Linked DNA regions of Homo sapiens: region 2 is linked to region 1. The links come from fine-mapping of genetic effects on gene expression. Tissue or cell type: monocytes. Region 1 holds a variant in brackets; the other region holds the start of a gene. All regions are shown on one strand. Distances are from middle to middle.

The links. PIP is the estimated chance that this variant, and not a neighbour inherited with it, causes the effect. A credible set is the group of variants that fine-mapping cannot tell apart.
Region 2: it holds the start of CUX2, and the variant in region 1 is the best candidate, but not a certain one, in a credible set for the expression of CUX2 in monocytes (Quach 2016, PIP 0.83).

What each region holds. Positions count from the first base shown.
Region 1 is chr12:111,307,060-111,311,436 of GRCh38, forward strand. It overlaps CUX2 (cut like homeobox 2), which reads left to right. Exons shown (of 22, transcript NM_015267.4): 11 at 1-53; 12 at 140-198; 13 at 1,226-1,274; 14 at 1,368-1,467; 15 at 2,982-3,623. The region is part of intron 2 of LOC105369983 (a long non-coding RNA gene); the gene reads right to left. Among named protein-coding and RNA genes, the nearest start is that of MIR6760, 5.1 kb to the left of the region's middle. The variant C/T (reference allele first, on the strand shown) is at 2,522.
Region 2 is chr12:111,032,319-111,036,695 of GRCh38, forward strand. It overlaps CUX2 (cut like homeobox 2), which reads left to right and starts at 1,847. Exons shown (of 22, transcript NM_015267.4): 1 at 1,847-1,922. The coding sequence starts at 1,860.

The DNA.
Region 1 (4,377 bases):
ACCAGATCGCCGACCTGGAGCGGCAGCTCACGGCCAAGTCCGAGGCCATAGAAGTGGGTCCTGGGGAGGAGGCAGGCGGGCAGGCGGCCCCATGCAGAAGCACACAGACCAGCCTCACCATCTTTCTTTGCTCTTCTAGAAGCTGGAAGAGAAGCTCCAGGCCCAGTCTGACTATGAGGAAATTAAAACGGAGCTGAGGTACCATGTGGGGTGGGGCTCCACAGACCCTCAGTGCTCTTCCCTGGCCAGGAGCTCTTGGCAAAGTTCATCATCTTCCTCCCTCCTACTAAACCCCATTTGTTCTTCTCTCCACTAACACTGTGGATATCAAACCTTAACCATCCTCAGGCCAGGTGCAGTGGCTCATCCCTGTAATCCCAACACTTTGGGAGGCCCAGGCAGGAGGATCGCTTGAGGTCAGGAGTTTGAGACCAGCCTGGGCAACAATGGGGAGACCCCATCTCTGTGAGAAAAAAACAATTTTAATTAGCCAGGAGTGGTGGTGATGCGTGCTGTAGTCCCAGCCACTCAGGAGGCTGATGTGGGAGGATTGCTTGAGCCTGAGAGGTCAAGGCTGCAGTGAGCTGTGGTGGCACCACTGCACTCCAGCCTGGACAACACAGTGAGACCCTGTCTCAAAAACAAAACGAAATTCAACCATCTTCAGTCCTTTTCCATTAAGAGCTGCCTGTACGGGCAGATCACCTGAGGTCAGGAGTTCAAAACCAGCCTGGCCGAAAGGGCAAAACCCTGTCTCTACTAAAAATACAGAAATTAGCCAGGTGTGGTGGCGCTCACCTGTAGTCCCAGCTACTTGGGAGGCTGAGGCAGGAGAATCGCTTGAACCTGGGAGGCAGAGATCGTGCCACTGCACTCCAGCCTGGGTGACAGAGTGAGACTCCATCTCAAAGAAAAAAAGAAGCTGCCTGTAGACCATACAAGGGAACTTATTATAGGCATGGTAACTGGAAGGTGATTCATTAACCAGCTAAACTCAAGCTGGCCAGAATGGGTCAGTTCAGGCAGCACCCCTCCAGGTAACATCGCCACCTGTTAATGAGCCTGCTACTTCAGGCCTGGGGTTGCAATGACTCTGGAATTAATGGGGTTCTGGGGAATGGAGCAGTCATTGTCAGGGAGGTAAGCCGGGTCAGTGCCTCTTGAAAGACCTCTCCTCCAGCCCGGGGGCTGGCTGACCTCAGACCCTCTCCACTTGCTCTGGCAGCATCCTGAAAGCCATGAAGCTGGCCTCCAGCACCTGCAGCCTCCCCCAGGTAAGTGTCCCTGCCACCATCCCTGCAGGGCAGGCTGCCCCAGTGAGCCTTCCGCCCACCAGGTGCCCTCTCAACCTGCCTCTTGTCTCCTAGGGCATGGCCAAGCCTGAAGACTCACTGCTTATTGCAAAGGAGGCCTTCTTCCCCACGCAGAAATTCCTTCTGGAGAAGCCCAGCCTCCTGGCCAGCCCTGGTAGGGGAGGAGGATACTCTGGGGCTGAGGGCTGGGGCGGGGGCTGCCTGTGGGTCTCTGGCCTTCTCATGCCCAAGGACCACTGCCTTCCATGCAGGCAGGAGAACGACAGAACAACAGGTGTGCATTGATTTGGCACCTGCTGTATGCCTGTCCTGCAGGGCATCCACAAACACCCACGTCATCGTTGGGGTCACACAGCTGGTTTGGGCCCTTCCAAGGCCCCCTAAAGAGCTCCACTCCCCACTGAGCCTTCTTGAGCTGCAGCGGCTTTCATGAAGTGGTCACAGGGGGACAAGCAGGGCATTGTCATTACACCCCCCACAGCCGACCACTGTGGGGAGCAGTAGGCTGCGGACATGATCACCCTGTCAGCCACCCGCTGACTTTTTTTTTGAGACCGAGTCTCTCTCTGTCGCCCAGGCTGGAGTGCAGTGGTGTGATCTCGGCTCACTGCAGCCTCCGCCTCCTGGGTTCAAGCAATTCACCTGCCTCGGCCTCCTGAGTAGCTGGGATTACAGGCATGCACCACCACACCCAGCTAAGTTTTATATTTTTAGCAGAGATGGGGTTTCATCACATTGGCCAGGCTGGTCTCAAACTCCTGACCTCAGGTGATCCGCCTGCCTCAGCCTCCCAAAGTGCTGGGATTACAGGCATAAGCCACCGCACCCAGCCACCCACTGAACTTTTAGCCTTGTGGCCCCAGGCAGGACACTGTGCTGCCTCTGTTTCCTCATCCATAAAATGGGTGTGACCTTGGGGCCCACTTCATGGGTGCCATGTAGGTCTAGTGAGTCAGCTCCAGGGTGGGTGCCCAGCAAGGGCCCATCTGCAGGTGGTGGCAAGTTCGACTTCCCACCCCAGGCCAAGGTGCTGGGCCCATAGCAAGTTCTCAGCTGATGCTCTTGGTGATGGGGGTGGGGCGCTCCCCAGAACTGGCATTTGGATGGGGCCTGGAAGAGTGGGAGTTGGAGAATGGAGGGGGTAGGGCAGAAAGAGCCAAGGTCGGCGCTTCCAGCTGCTGGACGCCTATAGCACTGCTCCCCACCCC[C/T]ACCTCCCCACCAACCCCTTCCCTCCTCCTCCTCCTTCCTTCCTCTATTTCTGACTTTCTGTCTCTATATATGTCTCTGTCTCTCTCTGTCTCTTCCCCCCCGACCCTCTCCCTGCCTCTCTCTGTCATGTGGTTTTTCACTCTGTCTCTTTGTCTCTTTATCTCTCTCTCTCTCTCTCATGTGGTCTCTCTGTCTTGCTCTCCCTCTCTCTCTCTCTGTCCCTCTCATGTGATTTCTCTCTCTGTCTCTCTCATTGTCTCTTTCTTTCTCTCACATGTGGTCTCTGTCTCGCTCTCCCTCTCTCTCTCTGTCTCTCTGATGTGGTTTCTCTCTCTGTCTCTCTTTCTCGTTGTCTCTCTCTGTCTCTCTCCCCCTCTGGTTCTTTTTCTCCCTGTCTCTCTCTCCCCTCATCATCGTCTTCCCCGTCTGTCTGTCTGTCTGTCTGTCTGGGTGTTCTAGAGGAAGACCCATCAGAGGACGATTCCATCAAGGATTCACTGGGCACGGAGCAGTCCTACCCCTCCCCTCAGCAGCTCCCACCTCCACCAGGGCCAGAAGACCCCCTGTCTCCCAGCCCCGGGCAGCCCCTGCTGGGCCCCAGCTTGGGGCCTGACGGCACTCGGACTTTCTCGCTGTCCCCCTTCCCCAGCCTGGCATCAGGGGAGAGACTGATGATGCCCCCAGCCGCCTTCAAGGGAGAGGCGGGCGGCCTGCTGGTGTTCCCCCCAGCCTTCTATGGCGCCAAGCCCCCCACAGCCCCTGCCACCCCGGCCCCTGGCCCTGAGCCACTGGGCGGTCCTGAGCCCGCGGATGGTGGTGGGGGCGGAGCGGCGGGGCCCGGGGCAGAGGAGGAGCAGCTGGACACGGCAGAGATCGCCTTCCAGGTGAAGGAGCAGCTGCTGAAACACAACATCGGGCAGCGGGTGTTTGGGCATTACGTGCTGGGGCTGTCGCAGGGCTCGGTCAGCGAGATCCTAGCCCGGCCCAAGCCCTGGCGCAAGCTCACGGTGAAGGGCAAGGAGCCCTTCATCAAGATGAAGCAGTTCCTGTCGGATGAGCAGAATGTACTGGCGCTCAGGACCATCCAAGTGCGGCAGCGAGGTGAGTGCCCAAGAGGGCCCGTCCCCGCTGGCCACCACGCCAGGTCCAGGGCATCAGGGCTGGGGGCTGAGGACACGCGCTCTGGGTTCAAAGCCCAGCTCTACCACCACCTGGCTGTGTGACCCAGGGCCAGTGGCTTTGCCTGTCTGTGCCTCAGTTTCCCCTCTGTAAAAGCAGGAAATACATCCTCGCTCTCTCCTTCCTGGCCCTGGCCAGAGACAGTCTGCCCTTCCTGGGGCACTCAGGGTAAGGGTGGCGGGAAAAGGCTCCAGGCGCTGCCCTGGCAGGTATTCATCCAGCACTTCCAAGCCTCAGTTTATACATTTGTAAGACCGCCAACCTTACCAGACTTGATTTTTCAGGTAATCAGTATGAAGGGTCCCAGCTGTGGCCTCACAAATGCCTGAGTTTGAGTCCCAGCTCTGCTGTTCACCCACTGGGTGACCTCAGACAACTCCTTTCACCTGTGCCCCGGTTTCTGCATCTGTCAGCCTCCAGGAGGCACCATGAGGATTAAACGGGCATCAAGCACTGACCACAGCACCTGGCATGCAGTGCTGCTTGAGAACTGTTAGGGGTGGTGGTTGCCATAGTCATTGTCGTCATCATTTCTTTTTTTTTTTGAGATGGAATCTCACTCTGTCACCCAGGCTGGAGTGTAGTGGCACAAGCTCAGCTCACTGCAACCTCTGCCTCCTGGGTTAAAGCAATTCTGCTGTCTCAGCCTCCCTAGTAGCTGGGATTACAGTCACAA
Region 2 (4,377 bases), 270 kb before region 1:
AAAACTTTAATTGCCTCAAAGCACGTGCTCTGAGACACAAATATTGGAAAATCATCAAAAATATCCATCATGATTCTCTCTTCTTTATAACTCTTCTAAACTTTATCTTTTTTATAACCCACTGTATTGATCTATTGTCCCAGACCAAGAGTGATGTCAGAAGTCTAGGCTGGGTCATAAAAAGAATATAATTTCCATTTGCTGTCCATAAAAGCAAATCTTTTGATCAGAGAAAAAGGAAAAACATGTCCCCTTTTTTTGAGTGGGGAAGAGGGTGCGGTGCTATGTATCAGGGGAATAAGCCAGAGAGGAAGGGTGACCTCACCTTTAAGGGTGGTGGCAGGGATAGGCAAGGGGGTTGGTGATGGAGGGGGCTGGGAGTATGAGTTCCCCCTGGAGGTGACATCTCACCTCCAGGGGAAGTGGAAACAGAGGACCTCGAGCTTGCACAGAGGCAAAAACAAACAAACAAACAAACAAACAAACAAACAAAAAAGCAGACAGAAAAATGTAAAACAAGAAATCCAGTCACCCCGGTTGTCAAGAGTCCGAAGAATTGCAAAGGACCGGAACCTCCCTCTAGCCATGCTGAAGACCCTCTCCCCAAAGACAATCACAATAAAGGAATGTCATGTTGCAAAGAACGGAGCCCCGGATAATAATGATGATAACAACAGCAGAAACCTCCGAGGTTTTTAAGGATCCGGAGCCCCCACAGCAGGGGTAGGGCACCCTCAACAGTCATAACAATAAAACAAGCCCACTGGGGGAAAAGGCCCTCCAGAGGTTTGGTTCAGAACCAAATAACAAAACCTCCAATAATCATCATCACAGTAAAAGGGTTTCACCTTGCAAAGCTGTGGGGGAGTCCCTATAATTGGGTTAAAGACCCCCCAGATAATAACAACAGAAATCCCTATTCCAAAGGACCTGAGGCCCCGCCCTCGGCCCCCGCCCGTAAAGAACCCTGAGCTACTACTCAGACGAAGCCCCCCTCCCCGCCAATAATAATAATATAATGGCGCGGAAACTGTGGGCGGTGGTGGTGACATTTCCCACGACTCAGTGGCGCCCCCGGGCGGCTCCCACCCTCCCTCCGGCCGGCGCGTCTACGCAGCCCCAAGTGCTGGCTGCGACCCTCGGATCCCAAGCATATCTGGCGATGGAGCGGCGGCAGCCCGAGGCACGTGTTGTGTGTGCTCCGATTGCAAAAGAAAAAAAAATGCATTTCAAACTATTAACTTTTTTTTAAGCGTGCAATGCCGGGAGCTGGGGGTAGACAGGTGCAAGCGGGGGTAGGCGCCCCGCGCGCCCGCCTCCCGCAGCGCCCCCTCCCAAACTTCCCTTTGCATTGATCAGCACGTTACGTCAGTATTGATAAGTTTGCAAAAAGCCAAAGTCAAGTGCAATCGCGCGGCACACCGACCCCGGACTTGGGGGGGAGATGCAGCGAGCGCTCCGCGGGCCCGGGAGCCGGCGGCAGGCAGGGCAGCGGCGGCGCCGGCGCCTCTCGGAGAGGCTGCCTCCCCCCAACCCCTCCCCTCCCACCCCATCCCCGGCTGCCTCCCCCGGGCGGGCGCCGAGCTCCCCGCCCGGCGCGCTCCGCCCGCGCCCTCCGGGGGTCGGGGGGGCGCACGGCTCCCGGGCCCGTTGGCGGCGGCGGCGGCGGCGGCGCGGCGGCGGCGAGGGGCAGCGGGTGGCAGGAGGCCGGAGGGCGCCCGAGGGGCCCCGGGCCGCGGCGCTCAGGGCCCGGGCGGCCGGCGGCGGCCCCGGGGCTGGGGGGAGTCCAGCCCGGATATTGAGTGCAGCCATTGAGAAAAGCCAAACTCTTGTGTGTGCGCGTCTCGATAGCCCCCAAGATGGCCGCCAATGTGGGATCGATGTTTCAATATTGGAAGCGATTTGATCTACGGCGACTCCAGGTTAGTGCGGGCAGCGCCGGCCGCGCGGCCGTGAGGAGCCCCCGGGCGCGCCCTGGGCGCATTGGGGAGGTCCCCGGGCGGGCAGGCGGACGCCCTGGGGCGGCGGGCGGCGGCTGCCGGGGCTCGCCGGGGCTCGGCCGCCCGCTGCCCATCGATAGGTATTAGGAATTGATCTCGCCGCTGCTCTTTGTTCGGTTCAGTCATCGATTAGCTGCCGCGACCATGGAGAAGCGCTAGTGAGCCCTCGGTCGGCGGAGCGGCCGAGCGGCCAGGCGGCCGGGCGAGGAGCGGGGAAGGCAGGGGCTACGGCCTCGGGCAGGGGGCTGCTGGCGGGAACCCCCGGCGGTCCCCCCTGAGCCGCACTTTGCGCGCCTCCCAACTTCGCGGCGCCCGGGGAGGCCGCGGAGCGCGCCGCTTGCCAGTCCGCACCCGGCTGGGGCTCCGGCGAGGGAGGGAGGGAGCTGGCGGGCAGGGAGGAGGAGGAGGAGAGGAGGAGGAGGAGGAGAGAGGAGGAGGGAGCCGGGGTTGGCGAGGAGGCGGCTCCGCGCCCCGCCGCTCGCCGGCACCTCAGCCTTCGCCGCCCGCCTGGCTGCGCAGCCCGGACGCGCCGCCACCCGGGGGCCGCCGCCGCCGCCGCCAGAGCCGCCGCCGCCGGACTGGCCGCAAGCGCCGGCAGACCTCTTCTCCTCGGGCCGGGGTCTTGGGGTTCGTCTTGCTTCTTGCCTTTACCCCCCCGCCCCTTCCATCCCCTTCCCAAGTCTAGATGCAGACGGGCGGTGGAGGTGGGCCCGGGCGCTCGCAAGTTTGCGCTCCTGCCTCCAGGGCGGTGGAGAGCCGGGAGCGGCGCAGAGCAGGTGACTCCCAGCCCTCGGGCCCAAGGGAACTTTTAAATGAGAGATTTCCTTGCTTGTTCTGCCTCCTGCGTTTCTCCCCGCTGCTCCCCTCGTCTCCTCTCTCCCGTCTCTGCTTTTCTTCTGTTTCTTTCCTCTCTTCCCTGCTCTTTCTCTCTCCTTCCCTAGGGCGACTCTTCGAAACCCCATCACTTTCTCCCCATCCTCCCTTTGTGGGAGTCTGTGTGCCTCCCCTAGATTTGGAGGTGTTCTCTGCGGACCCCGTAGGAGCCGGGGCTGGGAGGTGGAATCTCAGAGAACGCACCGTGGAGGCGCGGCTCCGGCCTCTGTTCTTTCCCGGAGTGCCCCGGACGCGCCTGGCAAGGCCCCCCAGCCTTGGAGTCTCGCAAAGTCTCGGCGGGTGCGGCGGGGATCAGGGGCGGGAAAATGGTGCGGATAACAGGGCGGTTAGAGCATCCTGCCTTGACCGTGACATTCGCGGAAGACGCGAGATCATCAGTCTGGAGATAAAAAGGGACCCACTTTTTTTTTTTTTTTTAATCCGCCGGCAAATCTCGTTAAGTTTCTTCTGATAAGTGGTTCCAGCACCCGCGCCTTCTCCCCGTCCTGGCCGCTTCCCAGTCCCCGTCCTTCCGAACGCCCCACTCCTCGCTCTCCCCCTCCCCCAAAGCCATTGAGCTGGGGAGAAAATCGGGGCACTGAGGCATGCAGTTAATAACTGCCGAGTGCCTTGCAATTCCGGGTCCGCACTCGAGTTGGGGCTACAGTTTGGTGGCCAACTGAGACGGGCAGGGCTGCGAGCTGTGCCTGCCGGCTTAAATGATGCTAAAGTGGCCTTTCTGGAAGAGTGGGGGTTATGGAGGCAGAGAGAGAGAGAGAGAGGGAGAATTGGGCAGCCACATTGGGCTTGGCACGAAGGCCAATGGTAATCGTATTCCCTGCTAATGTTTGTAAATGAGACCCGGGCACGGCTGGGGGACAGCGTCTTTATTTATGATTGATGTTCTGTAACATAAGGAATGACAAGAACGTGGCACACAAGAGGAGAGGAACCAGAAGGGCTGGCGAAAGCCCTTTGCAGGGTCCTATTGTTATTCTGGGCTGGAGAAAATTTCCGCGGCGAGATTTACAGCGCTGGTATTTGCTCCCGGTCGGCCGGAATGTCAGTTAACACAATTTTCATTAGATAACTCGTTTTCAATCCGGGGAGCTCGGGCTGCAGCCCGGGGAGAGGCAGGGGCTGGGTGCTGAGGGGAGGGTGCGGCTCCCAGGGGGCTAATGTCTGAACTAGGGAGGTTGGAACCTCACTGTCTTCAGTCTTCTACCCAAGGGGTCTTTTGTGGAACGGTTGAGGTCACCCAAATCTTGATTCCAGCTGGACGCCCATTAATCTGGGAACCCTTTGTTAGGGTTTTAGAAGATGCATAGATGGAAAGCAAATTTGAACTGGAAAGGATAAAGGTAGGGGGTGGTGGAGGGGTTTGTTCAGGTGATGGGGAGATAGGACCCAGACCTCCCAGCCTACAGGGTGTATATGTGAAGGGGGGGGTTGTTCGTTAAAACAATGGCTAGTGTGTCTGGCACACAGGAGAAGGCTCTCAGGG